Linked DNA regions of Homo sapiens. The protein of the gene in region 1 purifies or fractionates together with the protein of each later gene. This does not show direct contact. Each region holds a gene or a part of one and is shown on either strand. Other genes may lie near its edges.

Evidence for each region.
Region 2: the proteins of TUBGCP6 (region 1) and FRMD1 purify together in Homo sapiens (co-immunoprecipitation; one large-scale study listed by IntAct). This does not show direct contact.

The regions. Positions count from the first base shown.
Region 1 is NC_000022.11:50,216,926-50,221,058, reverse strand, and holds the end of TUBGCP6 (gamma-tubulin complex component 6), read left to right. Parts: coding exon 1-808; exon of another isoform or gene 809-867; intron 868-1,043; coding exon 1,044-1,102; intron 1,103-1,267; coding exon 1,268-1,415; intron 1,416-1,602; coding exon 1,603-1,771; intron 1,772-1,849; coding exon 1,850-1,991; intron 1,992-2,161; coding exon 2,162-2,356; intron 2,357-2,438; coding exon 2,439-2,571; intron 2,572-2,656; coding exon 2,657-2,870; intron 2,871-2,941; coding exon 2,942-3,141; intron 3,142-3,231; coding exon 3,232-3,323; 3' UTR 3,324-3,365; downstream 3,366-4,133. UniProt on the Homo sapiens protein: Component of the gamma-tubulin ring complex (gTuRC) which mediates microtubule nucleation.
Region 2 is NC_000006.12:168,069,205-168,073,007, reverse strand, and holds part of FRMD1 (FERM domain-containing protein 1), read left to right. Parts: intron 1-3,803.

The DNA.
Region 1 (4,133 bases):
CGGCCACGGTGGAACATCCATGGACATGTGTCCAACGCCAGCATCAGGGTCGGGGAGAATGTGTCAGATGTGGCTCCCACCAGGCCACGGTGGAATACCCACGGGCACGTGTCCAACGCCAGCATCAGGGTTGGGGAGAACGTGTCGGACGTGGCTCCCACCCGGCCACGGTGGAACACCCATGGACACGTGTCCGATGCCAGCATCAGCTTGGGGGAGTCTGTGTCAGACATGGCTCCCGCCCGGCCACGGTGGAACACCCATGGACACGTGTCTGATGCCAGCATCAGCTTGGGGGAGTCTGTGTCAGACATGGCTCCCACCCGGCCACGGTGGAACACCCACGGACATGTGTCTGACACCAGCATCAGGGTTGGGGAGAACGTATCGGACGTGGCTCCCATCCGGTCACGGTGCAACACCCATGGACACGTGTCCGACGCCAGCATCAGCTTGGGGGAGCCTGTGTCGGATGTGGTTTCCACCCGGCCACGGTGGAACACCCATGTACCCATCCCTCCGCCCCACATGGTGCTGGGGGCTCTCTCACCAGAAGCTGAGCCCAACACACCCAGGCCCCAACAGAGCCCCCCTGGCCACACGTCCCAGTCAGCGCTCAGCCTGGGAGCACAGAGCACTGTGCTGGACTGTGGGCCACGGCTGCCTGTAGAAGTGGGGCCATCTCTGTCCTCCCCCAGCTCGGGCTGCGGGGAGGGGAGCATCAGCGTGGGGGAGAACGTGTCAGACGTGGCTCCCACCCAACCATGGTGGCCCAACACCCCGGGAGACAGTGTCTCTGAAGAACTAGGTCAGAGTAGGGTGGCTGGTGGTCAGGAGTGGGACTGTGGGACGCACAGAGCCTGGGAGGTAGGCGGGCAGTGGGGTTGGTGGCATGTGAAGTTCCCCTCAGGCCTCCTTGTCAGCCAGGACCTGGGCTGCTGTGGGGGACATGGGAGGGGCTGCTTGAGCCAGGGCCGGCTCGGCTCTGTACCCGCCACAGGCACTCGGCCCTGATGCCCTCGTGTCCACTTGTGTCCACACAGGCCCTGGGAGGAGCGGGGACACTGAGGACCTCTCTCCAAATTGGCCTCTCAACTCACAGGTTAGGTGGATGCAGCCTGGGGGTCCCACAGCAGGCAGGGAGGGCTCTGTCCCTCTAGGTTGTCACGCGGGTGGGTCCCACATGCGATTTTCCTTTTTTTGGCACAAGCTGGTTGTGGGGACAGCGTGCAGTGGGGAGGTGGTTCTGAGGCTGGTGTTTTGTTAGGAAGACACAGCTGCCCAGAGCAGCCCAGGCCGTGGTGAGGAGGCGGAGGCATCGGCGGCGGAGGCTCAGGGTGGGGAGCAGGCCTACCTGGCAGGCCTGGCAGGGCAGTACCACTTGGAGCGGTACCCGGACAGTTACGAGTCCATGTGTGAGTGCAGCAGTTGCTGTTGGCAGGGAGCCCTGGGCTGGCTGGTTCCCAGCACGTGCTCCACCTCCTGTGGGTTGGGGCGGAGCCCTGGGCTAGCCAGTTCCCAGCACGTGCTCCATCTCCTGTGGATGGGGGCGGAGCCCTGGGCTGGCCGGTTCCCAGCACGTGCGTGCTCCATCTCCCGCAGCCGAGCCGCCCATTGCTCATCTTTTGCGCCCCGTGCTTCCCCGGGCCTTCGCCTTCCCCGTGGACCCCCAGGTCCAGTCTGCCGCTGATGAGACTGCTGTGCAGCTGAGCGAGTTGCTGACGCTGCCCGTGCTCATGAAGCGCTCCATCACGGCACCGCTGGCCGCCCAGTGAGTGCCCCTGCCCCTGCGCCAGTCTGCCCACCCAGCCCGTCCTGGCCCGCCCTGACTCCAGCTCCCTCCTGCCAGCATCTCCTTGGTGAACAAGGCCGCTGTCGACTACTTCTTCGTGGAGCTGCACCTGGAGGCGCACTATGAGGCACTGCGGCACTTCCTGCTGATGGAGGACGGCGAGTTCGCCCAGTCCCTCAGCGACCTGCTCTTTGAGAAGGTGGCCTCCGGACACGGGGTGGGGCCAGTGGTAGAGGGGAGGCCGTGGGAAAAGAGAGACTGGCTGCACGCCCACAGCCCCCTGCTGCTCTGGCACAGCCCCATGGGGTGCCGGCGAGTGCCAGGCATGTGCTTGGGACTCCTGGGGACGGTGGTCCCTTTTCTGCCTAGCTTGGAGCTGGGCAAACGCCCGGAGAGCTGCTCAACCCGCTGGTGCTGAACTCTGTGCTGAGCAAGGCCCTGCAGTGCAGCCTGCATGGGGACACCCCGCACGCCTCCAACCTCTCCCTCGCTCTCAAGTACCTGCCCGAGGTGTTTGCCCCCAACGCCCCGGATGTGCTGAGCTGCCTGGAGCTCAGGTACAAGGTCAGCAGCAGCCCTGGCCGCGGGGGATGGGACAGGGGCCTGCCTGCCTGTGGGATGCCTGCTGAGCCACGCCTCCTGGCAGGTGGACTGGCCTCTCAACATTGTCATCACCGAGGGCTGCGTGAGCAAGTACAGCGGCGTCTTCTCCTTCCTGCTGCAGCTGAAGCTCATGATGTGGGCGCTCAAGGACGTCTGCTTCCACCTCAAGCGCACAGGTGAGGCCCCGCTGGAGCCCGGCGCCCCGCACCCCTGGCTGGAGGCTGCGCTCACCTCTGCCCTCTGCCTTCTGCCCTCCGCCAGCCCTGCTGAGCCACATGGCCGGCTCTGTGCAGTTCCGTCAGCTGCAGCTGTTCAAGCACGAGATGCAGCATTTCGTGAAGGTCATCCAGGGCTACATCGCCAACCAGATCCTGCACGTCACCTGGTGCGAGTTCAGGGCCAGGTTGGCCACCGTGGGCGACCTGGAGGAGATCCAGCGTGCGCACGCAGAGTACCTGCACAAGGCCGTCTTCAGGTGAGGCCTGGGCAGCGGCTGCGTCCCTGTGGTCACGGCTCAGCCCACCCAGCAGCACTGCTTCCCCCCAGGGGCCTGCTCACGGAGAAGGCGGCGCCCGTCATGAACGTCATCCACAGCATCTTCAGCCTCGTGCTCAAGTTCCGCAGCCAGCTCATCTCCCAGGCCTGGGGGCCCCCTGGGGGCCCGCGGGGTGCAGAGCACCCCAACTTTGCACTCATGCAGCAGTCCTACAACACCTTCAAGTACTACTCCCACTTTCTCTTCAAAGGTGAGGCCCACCCTGGCTGGGAGGGCTGCGGGGGGGCCAGGGCGGGGCTCACACTGTGGGCAAAAGCCTGAGCTGCTCGCTGGTCCCCAGTGGTGACCAAGCTGGTGAACCGCGGCTACCAGCCCCACCTGGAGGACTTTCTGCTGCGCATCAACTTCAACAACTACTACCAGGACGCCTGAGGCTGCTCTGCGGGGGACGTGCACAATAAAGGTGTTCTCGGACCCTGTCTGCAGCTCTCTCTCCTGGGTGGGGGCTGAGGACAGGGCAGGGTGGGGGAACAATGACCACAGAGACAGACTCGAGGGAGTTGCTGGTTTATTTAGGAGCCTGGGTCCAGCCCCCAGGGACCAGGCTGCACTGCTGAGCCGGCCTCAGACAGAGACGGGTCAGGTCCTGACTGGATGTCTCTGCCATCATGGAAAGACGGGTGTGCATGGGCCAGGGCAGAATCCCCCAGTGTATAGGGCAGCCTGGCATCATCTTGGCCACTCAGCAGCACATGGGGGCCTCGGGAGACTCCAGGGGTGTGGAGCGTGCCGAGGCCGTTACGAAGATCATGTCACGCACAGTTCTGCTGCCCAGAGCGGGGGCTTACTGCTGTAGGAGCGCTGCCTGCCGTCCGCCCCGTCGGCTTCCGTGGCCTCGGCGTCTGTGGCGGCCCCCGCCTCGCAGTGGTAAGGGGTCTCCAGTAGTTTCAGCACCCGCCGCACCTGGAGGATCAGGAGGGTGAGAGGGGTCTGGGGCCGACCCCCCTCCCAGGGACCACAGGGACAGGCGTGTGCTTGCCTCTGAGAAGTCCCCGCGCTCGGCAGCCTCGATGGCATTCTGCGCGATGTAGTTCCTCAGCACGTACTTCGGGTTGTTGGCGTGCATCACGCGCACGTGCTCAGCCTGCCAGGCGGCAGCGTCCCCAGCGCCTTCCAGGTCCTTGTCCAGCCGGGCTCTGGAATGACATCCGGGCTCTGGAGTCACAGCCGGGCTGGACTTTT
Region 2 (3,803 bases), on another chromosome or scaffold:
GTAGCTTCCCAGACCCTGTGCCCCCATGGGAACCTGAGCCATCTGAGGGCTGTGGACAGAAGTCTCCAGGCCCCACTTTTAATCACAGTGAGAGTCACTCAGGGGAGGGCGGGATGTTGACTTTGGAGAGTCCAGTTTTGCTATTCGGTTTTGTGGTTGGTGTCATCTCTCTGTGATTTTAGAAATGAAAAGAAAATTAGTCTGGACAGAATGAGGGAAGAAAGTTCAAGCGTCCCAACCCTGTTCTTGGCATCTTTTATTTCTTAAAGGCTTAAAGTCTCTTTAACAGCCAAAAAACAAATCGAGGGCGGGGTGGGGATTGGGGGGAATTCAGGGGCTGCCCGCAAAACCCGGGCCAGGACCCATCGCTTTGGTTGTGCATCATGTTCATCACCGCCGGACGTTCACCGACATGTTGGAGCCGCCGTGTTTGGGGGGCGAGCTCTGGTCCGCGCTCCACTCTGCCTCGTCTGTGCCCAAGTTCTCGGCACTGAGGCTTCCCTGCTCTCCCAAGGCGAGAAACGCCCCAGGGCATCCCCCTCCCTATGGGAGGCCCTGCACAGGGCGGGTCGCTGTGGTTGAGAGGGCCTCTGGGAGACGTGGTTCGCAAGGCGACCACGGGTGTGAGGGCACGGGGAGTTCAGCCCTATCCGGAGTTCAGGCACAGCCCCTGATGTCCCCGAAACCTAGAGACAGCAGGTGGTGTTGGGGGGTTCTGAGGGTGGAGTGTGGGGGTCCCCCAGAGGTCCAGTGGCAGCTCCTTGGGGAAGGACCTCCCCTCCCAGCAGGGGGTGCAGGGCAGGGCGTCTCTCCTGTTGCCCAGGAATCCATCACCCAGGCGGGGCAGGTTCCCGGTGGCCAAGGATTCTCCCGGTTTATGTGCTGATGATCCTCGGTGTTGGGGAATTGCAGACAGGTCATGAAGTCGGCAGCCCCGGCTTGGACGCCATCGGCTGGCTTCTAACCCTGTTTCCCTTTCGACTGAGGCACAGTGTCCGTGTCATCAGCTGCCCAGATGCTAAGGGGAGAGCTCACGGGCATTTGCCGTGTGTCTGAGCACAAGGGCCAGCAGTGGGGAGGCCCGGGAGGCAGGAGGCAGGGGTCCTTGAGTCCTGAAGGTCAGCACAGGATGAGGGCCTGCAGCGCTGGGACAGCCTTGAGCAACAGGAGGGGCTGGGAGGGTGGCCTGGAACAGCTCCCACTGGCGGCCAGGCAGGTGCACACAAAGGGAGATTACTGGCTCATCAGCCAGTGTTTGCCTTGTCTTTACCCTGCGGAGGGAGTTCCCAGGTGGGAGGGCTTTCCGACTCCTGCCAACCAACCCTTTCTCACGTCTTTCTTGATGATGTCCCCTTTCTCCCTGTCCCCTTGACACTGGACATTTGAGACAGCCTGTGGCCGAGCTCACTGGCCTCAGGGACAAGAAAGGAATCTGGGGTCACCTTTCCTCCTGGTGATCCAGGAATCCGCCTCTGCAGGAGGAGGACAGACTCAGAACCGGCCCCTCAACCTCCCTGGCGCTGCGGTTTGGCACCTCCACCCAGCAGAGCCCTGTGGCCCCAGGGCCTTCTTGACCCGAGGACACCCTTCTTGGTTCTGGCCAGAGCCCTTGCTTTGGAGATTTGGACTTTTTATACGGGAAGTGCTTGGATTTCTTACTTTAATTATCTCTTAAGTTGTAAATTGTGTACATTTTTGAGACATTTTGTGAATTGTGTACATTTTTGAGGCCTGTAGCAAAAAACAAGAGATGTGATTTGGGGCTTGGATATAGAGGCAAGGCAAAATAAGACAGAGACAGAGAGGAATAGAGAGAGAGTGGGCTCCACCTGGCCTGGCCTTGGCCCTCGCTGCCTGGAGCTTGCTCCTGTGGCAGTGAGCAAGGGTGCCGGTGTCCAGCCCCTTGGCCAGCCCTGCAGGAGTCTCGTGCTGTCACACCAGTGTCAAGGGTAGCAGGGCACAGTGGGGAAGTTCAGGCCTTTTGTTCAATCAACAGGCACCTGTGGACTCCATGGTGTGTCCCGATCTGCCTGCCACGAGCTGAGAGGATGACTCTCACTGGGAAGAGAGTGAGGAGGCTCTAGAGGGTGCATGTAGTCCCCACCCTGCTGGGTTCAGGGGAGCCTGTAGCCAACGCCAGAATCTCCCCTTCCAGCAGCAAGATGCCGGTCCTCCAGCAGACAGTCATGTGCCAGTCAAGGCTCTCCAGAGAAGCAGGACAAGTAGGACGCGCACGCACACTCCTGACAGATGTATGCGTATGTGTATGTCTGTATACACGTATCCTTCCGATCCCATTTCTCTCTACAGATAGTGTGTGTGTGTATAGATACATAGAGGGAGAAAGAGAGAAGCTGATTTATTGTAAAGAACTGGCTCATATGATTGTTGGAGGCTGGCAAGTCTCAAATCTGCAGGGCAGGCTGGAGACCCAGGGAGAGCCACTGTTGCCATCTTGGGTCCGAGGGCCATCGGGAGACGGAGTTCCTTCCTCCAGAGGGGACCTCAGTCTTTCCCTGTTAGTCCTCCAACCGACTAGACAAGGCCCACCCACAGTATGAAGGTCATCTGCTTTGCTCAAAGTCTACTGATGTAAATGTCTCCCTCCCTCCCTCCCTCCCTCCTTCCCTCCCTCTCTCCCTTCCTTCCTTCTTTCTTTCCTTCCTTCCTTCTTTCTTTCCTTCCTTCCTTCTTTCTTTCCTTCCTTCCTTCTTTCTTTCCTTCCTTCCTTCTTTCTTTCCTTCCTTCCTTCTTTCTTTCCTTCCTTCCTTCTTTCTTTCCTTCCTTCCTTCTTTCTTTCCTTCCTTCCTTCCTTCATCTCACTCTGCCACCCAGGCTGGAATGCAGTGCTATGATCATGGCTCAGGTGGATCCTCTGGCGTCAGCCTCCTGAGTGGCTGGGACTGCAGATGCATACCACCACAGCCAGATACCTTTTGTATTTTTTTGTGGAGTCGGGTCTCATTATGTTGCCCAGGCTGTCTCAAACTGCTGGGCTCATGCAATCCACCTGCCTCTGCCTCCCAAAGTGCTGGGATTACAGGCATGAGCCACCACACCCAGCCTGAGTGTCGCCTTCATCTTAAGAATGTCTTCACAGTGACATCTAGACTGCTTTGACCATACAGCGGGGCACTGTGGCCGGGCTAAGAAGGGTGCGCCCATCACCAGAGGTGATGATGTCTGCTGTCCCACTGCTAGGGGTGCAGGGGTTTAGGGGGACAGTGATGATTTTGAGAAACAAGTGGTTTCATCTTCTAGATCGGTGTTGCCGCAAGTATTGTTCTCGTAGTGTTTGAGGTTAAGTCCTAGGAAGTACTAAGCTTAAGGAGTTCATTTTCTGTCCTCCTTATTATGATTTGAGATGGAGTTGGTAAGGATACAGTGGGGTGATTTAGGTAATGAATGTACAAATAAAAGGCCTTTTGCTGACCTTACCGAGGCAAAGGTAACCCCAGATCCTTTAGCGAACATTGCTAAACATCTGCCACTCATGCTGCAAACACTGAGTTCAAGCTCGAGTACCCAAATAGTGAATTCGGGGGAGTCAGGACCAGAGAATGGTGATCTAGACCTTTTCACTCGGCATTTGCTTAGACCGGGCATTGGCAGACTTTTTCTGTAAAAGGCCACATAGTAAATATTTTGACTTTGCAGTACGAAAGCAGCTATGGACATGATGTAATAGAATGATTGTGGCTGTCTACCAACAAGATTTTATTAACAAGAGCGAGTGGGTGCTGGGGTTTGGCCTGGGGCCCTGGTTTGCTAACCCCTGGCTCTGAGGGTCCTTGGCCTGTTAT